Regions from separate parts of the Homo sapiens genome. Here region 1 is linked to region 2. The links come from fine-mapping of genetic effects on gene expression. Tissue or cell type: blood mononuclear cells. Region 2 holds a variant in brackets; the other region holds the start of a gene. All regions are shown on one strand. Distances are between the middles of the regions.

Region 1 (8,340 bases), 39 kb after region 2:
GTCCCAAGCACTATCGCAGGTACTCATCATACAGCTTCAATCCAGACTGGCCCTGTCTTCAAAGTTTTTATTCTAAGGGGGTTGCTGGGCATGCCCTTCAAAAAGCCAAAAGATATCTACCAGCATAAAAAATAAATAGAACAATTGTTAGGCAATTTTGTTTTCCTATTATGGTTAATTACCAGCACAATGTCAATATTAATTGCAAGTATTTTCTCATTGCAGACCAAAAGTATTTTCGGTTTAACAGGCTATCCATGACATATAAAATATTCCTAAGCATGTAAATTTTGGTCTTTGGTCTTAAACCTATCTGCTTGCAGACTGACTCAGACTTTCTATAGAACACTGGTAACAGAAACATACCCAAGTATGACTTAACTATAGGAAATTTAAATTACTAGTTTGTTCCCTACCAGGGATGCGGTAGCACTACCTCTGAAGTATCATTCATTCAAATCTGCCTTAAGCCATGTGCATTAATCTAGCAAAAATAAAATGAGGAGAGGAAAGGCACTATTATTTTTCAACACTCATTATGCATGAGATACTATGCTAGGTACTTTACATATATTGTCTCATTTTTAAAAATGCATCTCAGTCGTTAAAAGTGTAAGCTTTGAGATCAGACAAACCTGGATTTGACTCCTGATACCACTTAAGAGTTTAATGTCTTTGAGATTCAGTTTCATCCTACCTAAACTGCCTAGCATAAAAATTTATTGAGAATTTACTGAGATCATTAAATGGGATGATACTTAGATCAAAAGAAAAAAATGGAAGCGAAATTTTAGGAGCCAAGGAATCTCTGTCAAGGGGAGAAAAGGCTGGGCAAAAAAACACATATTTAAGGGCAGTAAGTAAAATGCTGGTTCAAATGTAATCCCAGGACTATACCACTCAATATGCCAGCATACAGATAATAGCTTCTTTTATTTATACTTATATTAAATATATTCTTATAGGGAATTTATCCCATAGAAAAACATACTTGCATTTATATTAGATAAAAATGGGGGAAATTTTATCCCATAGAAAATCATGCTTGCATTTACATTAGATAAAAATGGGGGAAAATGCTCTTTTATCTAGGCCGGGTGCAGTGGCTCATGCCTGTAATCCCACCACTTTGGGAGGCTGAGGTGGGCAGGTCACTTGAGGTCAAGAGTTCAAGAACAGCCTGCCCAACATGGTGAAACCCTGTCTCTATTAAAAATACAAAAACTAGCCAGGCGTGGTGGCTGGTACCTGTAATCTCAGTTACTCGGGAGGCTGAGTAGAATCACTTGAACCTGGGAGACAGAGGTTGCAGTGAGCCAAGATCTAGCCACTGCACTCCAGCGTGGGCAACAGAGCAAGACTCTGTCTCAAAAAAAAAAAAAATCTATTACACGATCAATTCTATTCGAAATAATTTCAATGCAATTCAACAGCAACTTCTTGAACACTTCCTAGGCATGTTTTCCTCAATGGCAGAGACCATATCTTCACCTATGACTCCCCAATATTTAATCAATGCCAGAGATAAAAGTGCTCAGTAAGTATTACTGGAAAAAATGTGTATCTAGCATAATACAGACTATCTATTATTAATCCAAGGGCAAAGAATTCTAAAAGAAAAAAGATTTCTTTTGGCTTTTAGCCAAAAAACCCTCCACATATTCCTCTTGAAAATTAAACCAGTCTGGTTATTCATTTTGTATCCCTATTGAATCTTACCACCTCCTTAAAGTTAAAATGGCTCAATGTTATTATTTTACTTACCCACAGTTTCTACGTATGTTTGAAGCCAAGGAAAATGCATTCCTGCACCACTGAGCACAGATGTTTCCACTTCTTCATCATCTGTCACAGGCCCTTTTAATTCTTCACTGAAATCACTCATACCTATTACAAGATGAGATATCAGTTACTTTCTGTACATCTTAATCCACAGTCTTCTGAGTTGTACAGAAAAACGGCTATCTTTTTATCTAATAAATATAATTTGATTAGCAAAATGCATTATACCTGTCAGCTCTTTTAAAGTAAAAAATGAATTTAACTATGTCAGCAACAGCCAAAATGAATGATCCATTAAAGACCGAACCACTAATGTTTCAAGTCCATGTAAAGATAAATAAGATACTGCCCCTCTAATTTAAAAAATCTCAAGTCTAGACGAAGAAACAGCAAAACGTATAATAACAAAACAATATGAAAAGTACAGTAAGAATAGAAGTAGCAGCTAATATTTATTAGGCCCTTACTATGCACTAGAAGTATAAATTATCTAATTTAATCCCCACAGCAATCCTGAGGTGGGTACTATTACTTTCTTCCATGTGAAGGTTGAAAAAACTGAGGGGCTTAGTGAAATGATGGAACCTGCCTAACATCACAAAAAATGGTGAGGACGATAGTCTAGGAAATAGAACACCAAACTACTTGGCATGACTAGAATTCGAGGTGCGTGTGGAGGAGGGGTGCGGAAGGTGAGAAACGAACCTAGAAAAATCATCATAAGCCAAGGTGAGTTTAGACTTACTCCTAAAGATGCTCAGGGCCCCTTCCTCATTACCCATATGAAATCGAGTATTAGTGCCCCTGATACTACCTCCAAATTTCCCCTATTTCCCCTCTTCAATCCTACAGCACTACTCTAGTTCAAGACCCCTTCAAACAGTGCCTAGATTACCGCATCAGCTTTCTAAACAATTACCCTGGCTCAGATTTTGCATCTCTGCATTATACCCAGAGTAAACCTTCTAAATTCAAAGCATGTGGCTAGGAGTATGAATTATAAGTAACAACTGAATTTGAATCCGACCCATCACGTGTTTTCAGGAGTAGTTACACAAATCCTCCCTTTCCAAATCCTCAAAAACCCAAATTGGTGACCCGCAGTTGCCACGGCAACCAAAGCTTCTCTATCCCCTTCTTTCGTTTTCAGACCCCAAGGGTTTCAGGTATTAGGAGGAAATATCAGGAGAACATGGATGAATCCTGACACACCCCTTCCCGTTCCATTTAAACGCAGGAACCACGGGCGATATCTGCGGCACTTACCCGCCTAAATTTAGAGCTCCTCAGTAAAGCTAAACTCAGTCTCCGACTCCGGCCCACGTGAAGAAATTCCCACCGGAAGACGAGTTAGGAGAGCTTTATATGAGCAGGCGCTAAACCTGGTTTAGGTATTTAGGCAGCGCGCGGCCCGGCTCGTAACTCCTCCTGCTGCAGCAGGCGTATCGTTGGCCTCGCCTCGACCCCGGAAGTGACTTCTGGAAGTGACCCAGGAAGTGACAGTGAGCTGCCTCTCTGCGATTGGTTTTGCCCGAGTTTTATTTTTGTCTGTCTCAGCTAGAAAGTGGGAGACTTTCATTTAAAATGGAAATTGGGGCGAGGGGTTGGCGGCTGGGCGAAGGGAGCATTCAAAAGCGGAGAATGTCACTTTACCCGAGAAATTCACTACGATGGGCCATTGGTTTCTGCTCGGCTCGCAGGCGCACTGCACGAGTGGAGGTGTGGCTAGTGGCTGTGATGAGATAAATCCATGCATAGCCTTTTCATTGCGAGCTTGAAAGTTCTTTTCTATTACAGTTTTAGCTTTAGGTTTAATTGGTTCGACTGCCTTCTCCACAATTTGGGCGAGAATTTCCTTTGCCTTCTCAGCAAAAGTTGTTCTGCGGACCCGTCTGGGTCAACTTTCATGAGGGACATTGAGACAAACAAATGAAATATGGGTTAAAGGTAAGATGGTTAAACCGTGTGAAATGAGAGACAGTTGAGGGGTTCTAGGGAAGATGATCCCGGAAAAGGACTGCAGGCCCATGGAAACGCAGTGTGCTTCTCCAATATTTGGAGGGCTGATCAGTGAAAGAAGGATCAGACCCTTTTTCTTAGCAGCAGAGAACAGAACTAGGACTAATAAGTGAAAGGTAAAGGGAGGCTGCTTTCAAGTCACAGCAAGAAAGAATTTTGTCCACAAATGAGGATGCACAAATATAGCATAGGCTCCCCCAGGAATCACTGAGTTTCCTCTGTGTAGGTGAACAGTTTGAGTAGAATCGGAGTATCGGAGAGGAAATTAAAGGGTCTGGTAAGAGTTTGAGGCCGGGCGCGGTGGCTCATGCCTGTAATCCCAGCCCTTTGGGAGGCCGAGGCAGGCGGAAAGTTTGAGCTCAGGAGTTCGAAACCAGCCTAGTCAACATGATGAAACCCCGTCCCTACAAAATAAAAATAAAAAAAAATAAGCTGGGGTGATGATGCATGCCTCTAGTCCCAGCTACTCGGGAGGATGAGGTGGGAGGATCACCTGAGCCCAGGGAGGTCGAGGCTGCAGTGAGCTGTGATCACCCTACTGCACTCCAGCCTGGGCGACAGAATGAGACCCTGTCAAAAAAAATTTTGTACATGGATTCCTTAAAATGCTACAAATAGTTGATTCTATGTTGTCTTCTGCATAAAACAATATGCAGTAGTTAAGGACTTGCAAGAAAAGTTCCTTCTGCTGCTCTCTCTGTCATTAGTTCTTGAGTCCTCACTCAAGCTTGTGCTCTAACTCTACAGGCAGGGCTAACATAAATTATGCGTAGTCCAGGAGACCACACACAAAATAACATACATAATCATTACTTTCTTGTCTAGAGGCTTAGTCTGGCTACTTTTCTCCCATTGGCTTGAGGTGTAAATTCACCAAAACCAGCCCAGAAATGATTTTACATGGAAAAAAGTTTATGTTCTCCCGAAAATGAGGAAGAGCTTTCAGATTTTCCTCGAAGTTCTCAAACAGCTCTAAGGAGCAGTAGGAAACGTGCCCTACCTATGCTTTTTCTTTCCCATGCTGCAATTCTGACAGAAAATGTGTTGGAGAGAAGAGATAAAAAAAATCAACTAGATCACATCCAATAGCATAAACAAGAAGGAAGGAGGGAAGGTTGCCGTGGCAGGCATCTGTAGTCCCAGCTACTCCAGAGGCTGAGGCAGGAAGATCGCTGAGCTCAAAAGTTCAATTCCATCCTGGGCAACATAGCAAGACCATGTCTCAAAAAAAAAAAAAAAAAAGGCATGACAAATATGAAAACATAAAGCATGCAAAGACTTTTCTAGATTTCAATCTATAAGAAAACATGTCCTAAGAAAAACATGTTCTTACAATTACTTTGTGCTACAGAGCAACTTAATATGGTGATGAATTATGTTGTTTTTAAAGTTGCAAACTGTCATTTAAGGAATATTATTTCCATGAACGCTTCCTGTGCAATCTATTAAAGAACAAACTTCACATAGCCAAACAGTTGAAGAGACCTCATCATAAATAGACTATCCTATATCACAGCTAACGAGAATAAAAAAGGAATGTGGCATGAAAGCATAAAAATAAAAACATCTCAGATAATAATATAGAGAAAACCAAAATACATGGGCTAGAATTCCACCCCAGGGACTGTATCCTCAAAGACACAGGTTTTTCTTCCTTTTTCTTTTTTTTTTCTTTTCATGTTTCAGTACTCTGAGCAGCTACAAAAAGAAGACCAGTCTATCCTGCTGGAGACAGTGGCCACGTGAAGAAAGAGCTCTTGCAGTATGAAAGACCACATGGAAAGAGAGGCCACATGGAACCAACAGTCAGCATCTTGGTTTCGGACACGTGAAGAAATTCATCTCAGACTGTGTATCCTAAATCAGGCACTTGCTGAATCTAACTACATGAGTGAGACCAGTTGACAACACATGGAGCAGACATGAGCTGTTCTCAGTGAGTCCTACACAAATTCCTGACTCACAACACTGTGAGCAATAAAATGGTTGTTATTTTAAGCCACTGAAGTTTGCAGTGATTTCTTACATAGGAATAGATAAATGAAACACAAACATTGATCATTTGCATCTTCTATCTTTTTTATGACTAGTCTTATTGGAAATTACCAGTTTATTTCTGCCATGGTTAGAAAACAAACTCTGAAATTTTGATACTTTAAAATTTTTTTGAGACTTACTGTGCCCAGAATATAGTCTATCTTGGTGAATGTTCTGTGAGCACTAGACAAGAATATGTATTCTGTAGTTATTGAGCATTGTGTCCATCAATGTCAACGTGATTAAGGTGGTTAATAGTTGTCTTCAGATCTTCTATATTGTATTGATTGTTTTATGTGTAGTGTTGCTATTAATTATTGATACAGGAGTGTAAAACTTAAACTATGGCTGTGAATTTGCCACTTACTTTAGTTTTGTCAGCTTTTCTTTTGCATTTTTGAAGCTCTGTTATTGGGCATATAAACATTTATGGTTCGTGTGTCTTCCTGATGAATTGACCATTTTATCATTATGAAATGTCTTTATTGCTGATAATACTCCTTATCTTGAAGTCTAATTCATCCGATATTAGTATAGCCACTGCAGCCTTCCTAGCTTACTGTTTACTGGTATATTTTTATCCATGTTTTTACTTTCAACCTGTGTTTTTTAATTTAATGTGCTTCTCTTATAGACAACAGATAGTTGAGTTTGTCTATCATTTTGCTATTTGTTTTCGATTTGTCCCATTCAGTTTTGTGTTCCTTTGTTCTTTACTTCCTGCTTTCTTTTGGGTTAATTAATGTTTTTATATTTCATCTTAATTCCTCTGTTGGCTTTAACTGTATCTTTTTGCATTATTGCTTTACAGTGTTTCTGAGAATTATGATATACATTCTTAACTTATCACAGCCTTAGAGTTAAAATTATGATACTTCATGTAAAATAAAAGAGCCTTGCAATAGTAAAGTTCTACTTACCACCTCCCCAAGTCCTTTGTGCTTTGTTGTCATATATATCATATCTATGCACATTGTTATTTTTGCCTTAGTCATATGTATCGCAAAGAAATTAAGAGAAGAAAAGTATATATTACCTTTTGTGTATTTACCTACATTTTGCTATTTCCAGTTCTTTTCATTCCTTCCTGTTTGTGGTGAATTATCTTTAAGAATAGCTGTCAAAAAGTATTCACATTCTTGTATGTGCATGTTGCTTCTCCCTTTAAGAAATAGAATCAGCTGGGCATGGTGGCTCACGTCTGTAATCCCAGCAATTTGGGAGGTCAAGGCAGGTGGATCACAAGGTCAGGAGTTCAAGACCAACCTGAACAACATGGTGAAACCCTGTCTCTACTGAAAATACAAAAAAAAAAAAAAAAAAAAAATTTAGCTGGGCGTGGTGGCACATACCTGTAATCCCAGCTACTCAGGAGGCTGAGGCAGGAGAATCACTTGAACTTGAGAAGCGGAGGTTGCAGGGAGCCAAGATTGCACCATTGCACTCCAGCCTGGGTGACAGAGCGAGACTCTGTCTCAAAAAAAAAAAAAAGAAATAAGAAATAAAGTCTGTGTTCCCACCCCTTGAATCTGGGCTGGTCTTTTAACTTTGATGAACAAAACATGGTGAAAATGATGTCATACCAATTCTAGGCCTAGCCCCTAAGAAGCCATACACCTTTACTTTTATCCTCTAGAAAGCTGGCCAACAAATAAGTAAGTTTAGGGTAGATTACTAAAGAATGAAAAACATTTCAGCCAACCATCCCAACCATTTCAGCCACACAGCTGAACTACCAGACATGTGAATGAAGCTAGTTTGGAAGTTCCAGCCCTGGCTAAGCATCCAGCTGAATGCAGCCACCTGAGTGACCCCAGCCAATAATATCCAGAGCAGGAGAATCATCCAGGTAAGCAAAGCTATAGAATAGGTAGAAATAATAAATAATTATTATTTTAAATTACTAAATATATTACATCAAAAGAATAACTAAAACATTACAGATTTCAGTTTCCATCTGGTATGTCATCGTCTTTCATCCTGAAGAATTTTTTTTAGCATTGCTTACAGTGGAGGTCTATTGGTGTAGAATTTTCTGTTTTTATTTATCTGAAAATGTCTATTCTGCCTTCAGTTTTGAAGGATTCTTTAGATATAGGATTCTGGATTGGCAGTTTTTGTCCATCAGCACTTTAAGCCCTCTGATGATGTTAACTTCTTCTTTTTGATGAGAAGTCAGCTATCACTTTATTATTTTTGTCCATGTGTAATGTATTATGTTTCTCGGACTGCCTGCAAAACTTTTCTTTCCCAATACTTGGTTATTTGCAGTTTGACCATAATGTGTCTAGGTGTGATTTTCTCTGTAATTAGACTATTTGGCATTCACTGAGTTTCCTAGATTTGTCCATTTCTTTTATGATAATTTGAGATATTTTCAGCCATTATTGTCTTAAATATTTTTTTCTGTGCAATTATGCTTCTGCTCCCCTTCTGGGGCTCCAATTATATGTATGTAAGACCACTGCATATTGCTATGTACCAAGACTCGATTAATTTTTT
Region 2 (8,340 bases):
TGGAGACCAAATTCAGCACACACTCATGTCAGTGTGCGTGTCCAAAGCCGGCAGCTCCAAGATGAGGCACCCGGCACATGAACTTCTAAAGGGCTGGGCTCCCAAAGCACCCTCCGCTCAGGACCCACACCATGCAGCCCAGCACCCAAACCCCTGGGGCTGGAAGGCACTTTTCACTACCTGGCAAAGGATGTCTTTAATGTAATCTCCACACAGCTCATGTCTCTTCAGATCAAAATATTCCATGATGTCCCAGTACCGGGCAGCGATGCGGCGGTCCTTGTGCTGATCACAGCAGCCGAAGGACTCATAGTCAGAGCAAAACTCAAGGTGCAGAGGGGGCTGGAAAGGGGGCCCGTAATCCAGGCACTGGGGGTGTCCCTGCAGCAAGCCCACCTGGCCCAACAAGAATATGAGGCAGAGGCAGAGAATGCCAGAAGAGAGCCAGGGGGCCCGGCAATGCAGACCACCACACAGATTAGGAGTGGACGTTCTCAGCATTTTGGCCTTGGGAACACTCGGGCTGCTGTGTTTGCTCAGGTTGGCTTCCCTGCTCTGCCCAAGGTCCTCCCTCTCTTCCTCCCCCTACTCCACCCTGTTTTCTCCTCCTTCCTCCTCTTCCCCGCCCCTCCCTGCTGAGGTAGTTTCTGAGCAGTGTCCCTTCTGTGGGCTCCCTTTGAAAGCAGTGGGAGGTGTCCCTTCCCCCCTCCCCCAACCCATCTAAACATGAAGCCCCACTCTAGTGCTGCTAGTGTTATGGGGGCACACCTTTGCTTAGCCAAAAGTGTAGTGGTGTCAATGGCAGAGGTGCTCGATTCCTTAAAACTGCAAAGAATTCCTGCTGTCTGTGGGGATGCCCGGAAATTCACACTTTTTTATGTTTCTTCACAGGCTGAGAGGCCCAGAGTCACCATGAGAGCACCATATATTACATCATCCCAGACTTCACACTCTGTAGAAGGAAAGCTTCAAGCGTTTCTACAGTGCTGAAGGGCCCCAAGGCGGTGGGAGATATGGAGGGGCCATGGCAGGAGGCAGGGTGTGCTGTATAGCTCCTGGGATCTGGCAAGGTGTATATTTGGAAGGGTAGGAAGAGAGGGCATTTCATGAATCTTGCATCCACAGTAAGGACCAAGGAGAGGAAGGAGGACACAGTGAAGGAAAAGAAGGGGAATCTTAGTCCATGCTGCTGTAACAAAACACCACAGACTGTAATTATAAATAATAGAAATGTATTGGTCACAGTTCTGGAGGCTGGGAAGTCCAAGATCAAGATGGCAGTAGGGGCTGGGCATGGTGGTTCATGCATGTAATCCCAGCACTGCGGGAGCCTGAGGCAGGAGGATTACTTGAGCCCAGGAGGTTGAGACCAAACTGGGCAATGCTGTGAGACCCCGTCTCTACAAATATAAAAAGAAAATTAACCAGCCATGGTGGTGCACACCTGTAGTTCCAGCTACTTGGGAAGCTGAGTCAGGAGGATTGCTTGAGCCCAGGAGTTTGAGGCTGCAGTCAGCTATGATCACGCCACTGCACTCCAGCCTGGGCAACAGAGCAAGACCATCTCTAAAAATAAAAAAAAATAAGAGATGCCAACAGGTTCAGTGTCCGACGAGGGCTCTGTTCCTCATTGATGGTGACTTGTTGCTCCCATGGTGGGACAGGATGGTTCAAATCCACTCCTTCAAGACCTTTTATAAAGACCCTAATCCTATCCATGAGGCCTCTGCCTTCATGACCTAATCACCTCCCAAAGGCTCCACTTCTTAATACTATCACATTGGCGATTACATTCCAATCTATGAATCTGAGGTAGGGAGGGACACATTCAGACCATAGAAGAGGGAGGTGGTCCAGTGAAAACAAGGAATCAACAAGGACTGTTTGGGACAATTTCCTCAGGAAGCACAGGACAACTGGGTGCCTTCCTTTGCCAAATCTATACCTGCTGTAGGGACACTCCTCCTCACTTAGTATATGTTCCCACATTAGTATTTTAAAAATGTGTTTTGTGGCCGGGCACAGTGGCTCATGCCTGAAATCCCAGCACTTTGGGAGGCCGAGGCGGGTGAATCACCTGAGGTCCGGAGTTCAAGACCAGCCTGGCCAACATGGTGAAATTCCATCTTTCCTAAAAATACAAGAATTAGCGGCCAGGTGTGGTAGCTCACACCTGTAATCCCAGCACTTTGGGAGGCCAAGGCGGGCGGATCACAAGGTCAGGAGTTCAAGACCAGCCTGGCCAGCATGGCGAAACCCCGTTTCTACTAAAAATACAAAAAATTAGCTGGGCATGGTGGCGCATGCCTGTAGTCCCAGCTACTCAGGAGGCTGAGGCAGGATAATTGCTTGAACCCAGCAGGCGAAGGTTGCAGTGAGCCGAGATCATGCCACTGCATTCCAGCCTGGGTGACAGAGCAAGACTCCATCTCAAAAAAAAAAAAAATTAGCTGGGTGTGGTGGCGGGCGCCTGTAATCCCAGCTACTTGGGAGGCTGAGGCAGGAGAATCGCTTGAACCCAGAAGGCAGAGGTTGCAGTGAGCTGAGACTGTGCCATTGCACTCCAGCCTGGGCAACAAGAGTGAAACTCCATCTCAAAAAGTAATAATAATAAAATAAATATAAAATAAAATAAAAACGTGTTTTCCTTTGTCCACATCCCTTGCACATAACAGGCTTTGATAAATATTTCTTGAATGAATAAATGCAGAACAGGAGTCCCAAACTCACACAGCCCCAAACCCAAACAAGCATGAGCCAAGGTGTAGGCCAATGGGGACATTTGGCACTTGAGCTAACTCTCCTTTCAGCATTTTCCATGGTTCTGGTCCACCTTGAATTTCCTTACTGGCAAAAGCTTCTGTTTGAAACGCAGATGAAGTCCAAGTTTCTTCTTGTTCCAGATGTGCTGCTTCAGAGGGTGCCCTACCTGGCTGCCCAACTCATCGCCAGAAACAGTATTTGCCAGGGTATCATCAAGAAGGGACAGTGAACCTCAGTCTAGCCAAGTCTATACTCACAATGTTCTGGATTATGAAAGCCCCAAATAGCATTTAAAATACAAACAAAATTGGCCAGGTGTGGTTAATGCCTATAATCCCAGGACTTTGGGAGGCCAAGGCAGGAGGATCATTTGAGCCCAAAAGTTTAAGACCAGACTGGGCAACATAGTGAGACCCTGTTGCTATAAAAATTTTTTAAATTAGCTGGGTGTGGTGGCGTGTATCTGTAGTCCTAGTTACTTGGGAGGCTAAGGTGGGAGAATTGCTTGAGCATAGGAGTTCGAGGCTGTGGTGATCTGTGATCACACCGCTGCACTCCAGCCTGGGTGACACAGGAAGATCCTGTAGATAGGTAGGTAGGCAGAAAGATAGATGCATAGATAGATAGATAGATAGATAGATAGATAGATAGATAGATAGGAGGGAGTAGTCAGAATGATCATCAGAATAGTCCTGCTTTCCTATTTGTACTGTTCAGTACTACACCTAGTTGGCCGGGTGCAGTGGCTCATGCCTGTAATCCCAACACTTTGGGAGGCTGAGGCGGGTGGATCACTTGAGGCCAGGAGTTTGAGACCAGCCTGGCCAACATAGCGAAACCCTGTCTCTACTAAAAATATAAAAAAATTAGCTGGGTGTGGTGGCACACGCCTGTAATCCCAGCTACTCAGGAGGCCGAGGCAGGAGAATCACTTGAACTCAGGAGGTGGAGGCTGCAGTGAGCCGAGATCACACCACTGCACTCCAACCTGAGTGACAGAGTGGGACTCTGTTTAAAAAATATATATATATATAATATACCTAGTTGAGTGGTGCTTTTTAAAACATGGGTCACACCTATAATCCCAACACTTTGGGAAGCTGAGGTGGGTGGATGGCTTGAGCCCAGAAGTTTGAACAGACTGGGCGACATAGTGAGACTCTGTCTCTAGAAAAAAAAATAAAAATAAAAAATTAGCCAGATGTGATGGCGCATGGCTGTGGTCCCAGCTACTCAGGAGGCTGAGGTAGGAGGATTGCTTGAGCCCAGAAGTTCAAGGCTGCAATGAGACATGATTGCACCACTGCACTTCAGCCTGGGTGACAGAGTGAGACCCTGTCTCAAAATAAATTAAAATTAAAATAAAATAAATGTCATCCATGATTCACTGTTGACTGTGCTATTTCTTCTGGGTTATTTGCTCAAATGTCACAGAATGTCATGCTTCTGGAAGCCTTAAGCAGGAGGAGTAAC[A/G]TGGACTAATTTCAGCCAGTGAATTCACCCCCACTGCCTTCTCAGAACCATCAAACCCTGGGATATGGAAGAATGAGTGCATTATCTCATCCAGGTAGGACCTGAGAGTATTTTCTGATCTTCTCATGACATTTATGTATCGATTTCCCCTTTGTCGTGAACAATATGGAGATCTTATTGTTTTGAGCAGAGTCACTGCAAGATTAGCAGGGAAAGATGGGCGGGCAGAATCTGATCAGACAGTGACAGCATGAGTTTCTGATTACTAAAATATGTAACATTTCAGACGATACTACGTTTTAGATATAATCGTGTATGTAATTATGGCCAGGCATGGTGGCTCATGCCTGTAATCCCAGCACTTTGGGAGGCCGAGGTGGGCAAATCACAAGTTCAGGAGTTCGAGACCAGTCTGACCAACAAGGTGAAACCCTGTCCCTACTAAAAAAAAAAAAAAAAAAAAAAAAAAAAAAAAAAAAAAAAAAAAAATTAGCTGGGCGTGGTGGCATGTGCCTGTAATCCCAGCCACTCAGGAGGCTTAGGCAGGAGAATCACTTGAACTCAGGAGGCGGAGGTTGCAGTGAGCAGAGATTGCGCCATTGCACTCCAGCCTGGGTGACAGAGCGAGGCTCTGTCTATATACATATATATGTAATTATATAATAATCATGCAATAATTTTACAAAAGATGTCTTGGTGTCAATTCAGTAAATACATACTATTTTGTGTGAAGTATTATGCTGGAATAGAAATGTTTAACAGAAAACTGACATATAAAACAAACTTTTTCAAGGAGTTTATGCTCTGAGAAAAAAGGATGAAAGTATCCAAATAATACTGGCAGATATAAGATTAAGGTAACAGTAAGGGAGGAACAAACTGCCATTAGGGATCCCAAGGACGGAGAGATGACATTCGGCTGCAGGGGATTAAGAATATCATAATGAAAGTTGACTGGAGCTTTTAGATAAGTTATAGATGGAAAAGAACAGAAAAGACATTTTCACTGAACATTAGGTGAGCTTATAAAATAACTCTGAAACTATAAGCTAGGACCAGACAGAGTATCTGAAATCACTTCAGTTTCCACTTTTGAAGCAAACATAATCCTTTAAAAAATTAGCTTGGGCTGCTGTTAACACAGCCACAAACTTGGTGGCTTAAACAACAGAAATGTATTGTCTCACAGCTCGGGAGCCCAGAAGTCTGAGATTAAGATGTTGGCAGGGTTGGTTCCTTCTGAAGGCCGCAAGGGACACTGCTCCATGCCTGATCCCTAGCTTCGTGGGGTCTGCCAGCAATCTTGCATTCCGATTGTGGATGCATCACCCCAAGCTCTGTCTTCATGTTCACATGGTGCTCCTTCTCCCTGTGTGCGTTTGTGTCCAAATTTCCCCTTTTATAAGGACACCAGTCATACTGGATTAGTGCCCACCATAATGACTTCATTTTAACATGATTGTCTCTGTAAAAACTATCCCCAAATAAGGTCACATTCTGAGGTACTGGGGGGTAGGACTTCAACCATTCTTTTTTAGGGGACACAATTCAGCCCACAGCAGTAACACACACATTCACACACACGCACACAGTTTCATATAGCATGTGCCTTTTAACATCCCCCCCGCCGCCCCGCACAAGACAGGGTCTCAGTGTCACCCAGGCTGGAGTGCCAGTAGCTGGAACTGCAGGTGTGTGCTACCACGCTCAGTTAATTTTTACTTTTTTTTTTCTTTGTAGAGACGGTGGTTTCACCATGTTGCCCAGGCTGGTCTTGAACTCCTGGGCTCAAGTGATCTATCCCCCTCGGCCTCCTAAAGTGCCGGGATTATAGGCATGAGCCACCATGTCCAGTGCAAGTGCCTTTTAAAAAGTGATGTTGAGAGTCAGGTGTTTATCCTAAATCAGGTCATGGAACACAACAGAAAAAATATAAAAAGAAATGTTCTAGCTCAGTAGCTTCTCATATAGTTTACTGATGTAACTATCTATCTGCCTTCAGACTCCCTCTGTCACAGTCTAAAGATGAACAGGTTGTACCTCAGATTAGAGAAAGTATAACAACTCACTTGTACGAAGCATTACAGTTTACAAAGTATTTCCCCACACTGCATTTCATTTGATCTTCAGTTCTCTCAAGACAATTAAGTCAGCAAGGTAGATATATTACCAGTGAGCATATGAATGAATGAAGTCCAAGAGGGGTTCAGTGAAATATTTTAGGGCCCCACTTTAGATGAATAGAGATGGCAACACAATTCAGGTGTTCTGAATTACAGCCCAGATCTTTTTCATTCCATCAGGATGTACCCAAAAAGAACGAAAGTAGTTATCACTTTTATTTGTTCTTCATTTGGAAAAATTTGTCTGATGCAGCCTACTGAAGAGTGTATTGACTGAAGATTCAGTTCCATTGATAAGATTATCTGGGAGTTCTTGGTATAGGCAGGAGGGGAGTTGTAATTAAACAACTGGCAGTGGTATCACTATGGGACTGACGGGCGGAAACAAAGAGCCGCCTCTACTCACTGAGCTAAAGGCTACCTTCATAACTATGAAAACAACATAGAAGTCAGCTTCGTATTTTTTATGGGACTGAGTCGACTCTTACCTGGTGGCAGATTGGTTTAGAAGCATGAATCTTGGATTGACTTATTCAGATGTTAGTCATATTATTTGTAGACCATCCATCAAAGGTCTTGCTTGTTTCCTTTTGGAATATTTAAAATACAAAGATTCTAATTCAATCCAGCAGAAAAAGCCCTTGTGCTGTAAATATAGGTAAATAACTGGGTCCAAAAGGGCACACCTATCTGTTTTTTTAATTTTTGTTGCTTTTCCTTTTTCAAAAATGTTAACATAAAACAATGTTTCTATTTATTGAGAAAAAACATTTACCAGGACCCATGCTCAGCACTTTACATCAACCTTTCCAGACCATCCCATTTTACAGAATAAAGGTGAGGCCCAGGCTAGGTGGGGGGCTTCAGTCATGCTGGAATTTGAACCCAGACCTTTCTGACTCCATAGAACATTCTTTTATTTCTTTTTATGAGGGGAGGTGGGAAGGGAATGGGGTGTTGACAGCTTTACAGAGATGTAATTCACATTCCATATAATTAATCAGCTAGGGACTAATAATCCAAAATATAGAAAGAACTCATACAACTCAATAACAAAAATATAATTCCACTTTAAAATGGGCAAAGGACCTACATAGACACTTCTCAAAAGAAATTCAAATTGCTAACAGGTATATGAATAAGTGCTCAACATCTCCAGTCACGACGGAAATGCTAATCAAACCAGGAGATACAGCCTCACACCTGGTAGAATGAATCGTATCAAAGGTCAAAGATAAGTGCTAGGGAGGATGAAGAGAAGAGGAAGCGCTTGTATGCTGCTGTTGGGGATGTAAATTATGGAAAACAATATGGAGGTTCCCCCAAAAAATTGAAAATAGAAATATCTGGGTATATACCCAAAAGAATTGAAATCAAGGTTGCAAAGAGATATCTGCACTCCTATGTTCATTGCAGCATTACTCAACGTCCTTTGATGAATAAAGATAGGGTTTATAAAATTACAATTACATACTGCTCAGCCTTATAAAAGGAAGAAATCCTGCCATTCAGAACATGGAGGACATTATGCTGAGCAAAATTAAAATAGGCAAGACACAGAAAGAGAAATACTGCACGATCATCTCACTTGTATGTGAAATCTGAGTCCAATTCATAGAAGCAGAGGGTAAGATGGTTGCCAGGGGCTGAGGGAAGGGGGAAATGGAGTGATATTGGTCAAATGGTACAAAGTTTCAGTGATACAAGATGAACGATTTCTGGATATCCAATGTCCAGCATGGTGATGACAGTTCAGTACTGTATTACATACTTGTAATTTGTTAAGAAAGATCTTATATCTTCTCATCACACATACATACACAATACATACATAATGGTAATTATGTAGAGGTAATGAAGATATTAATTAGCTTGATTATAGTGATAATTTCAGAATGTATATCAAAACATCAGGTTGTACATCCTAAATATATACATTCAGAGGTTTCAAGGAGAAAACAAGACTTTAAATTATCTTTAG

Evidence for each region.
Region 1: it holds the start of TAF1A-AS1, and the variant in region 2 is fine-mapped to the expression of TAF1A-AS1 in blood mononuclear cells (TOPMed, PIP above 0.99).

The regions. Positions count from the first base shown.
Region 1 is chr1:222,586,679-222,595,018 of GRCh38, forward strand. It overlaps TAF1A-AS1 (TAF1A antisense RNA 1), which reads left to right and starts at 3,242. Exons shown (of 3, transcript NR_110613.1): 1 at 3,242-3,284; 2 at 3,580-3,729; 3 at 5,488-5,955. It overlaps TAF1A (TATA-box binding protein associated factor, RNA polymerase I subunit A), which reads right to left and starts at 3,255. Exons shown (of 11, transcript NM_005681.4): 1 at 3,049-3,255; 2 at 1,765-1,887. The coding sequence starts at 1,885. RefSeq lists enhancers at 3,222-3,755, 3,756-4,288.
Region 2 is chr1:222,547,544-222,555,883 of GRCh38, forward strand. HHIPL2 (HHIP like 2) reads right to left here and starts at 561. Exons shown (of 9, transcript NM_024746.4): 1 at 181-561. The coding sequence starts at 501. It also overlaps a transcript of TAF1A not described here. The variant A/G (reference allele first, on the strand shown) is at 4,237.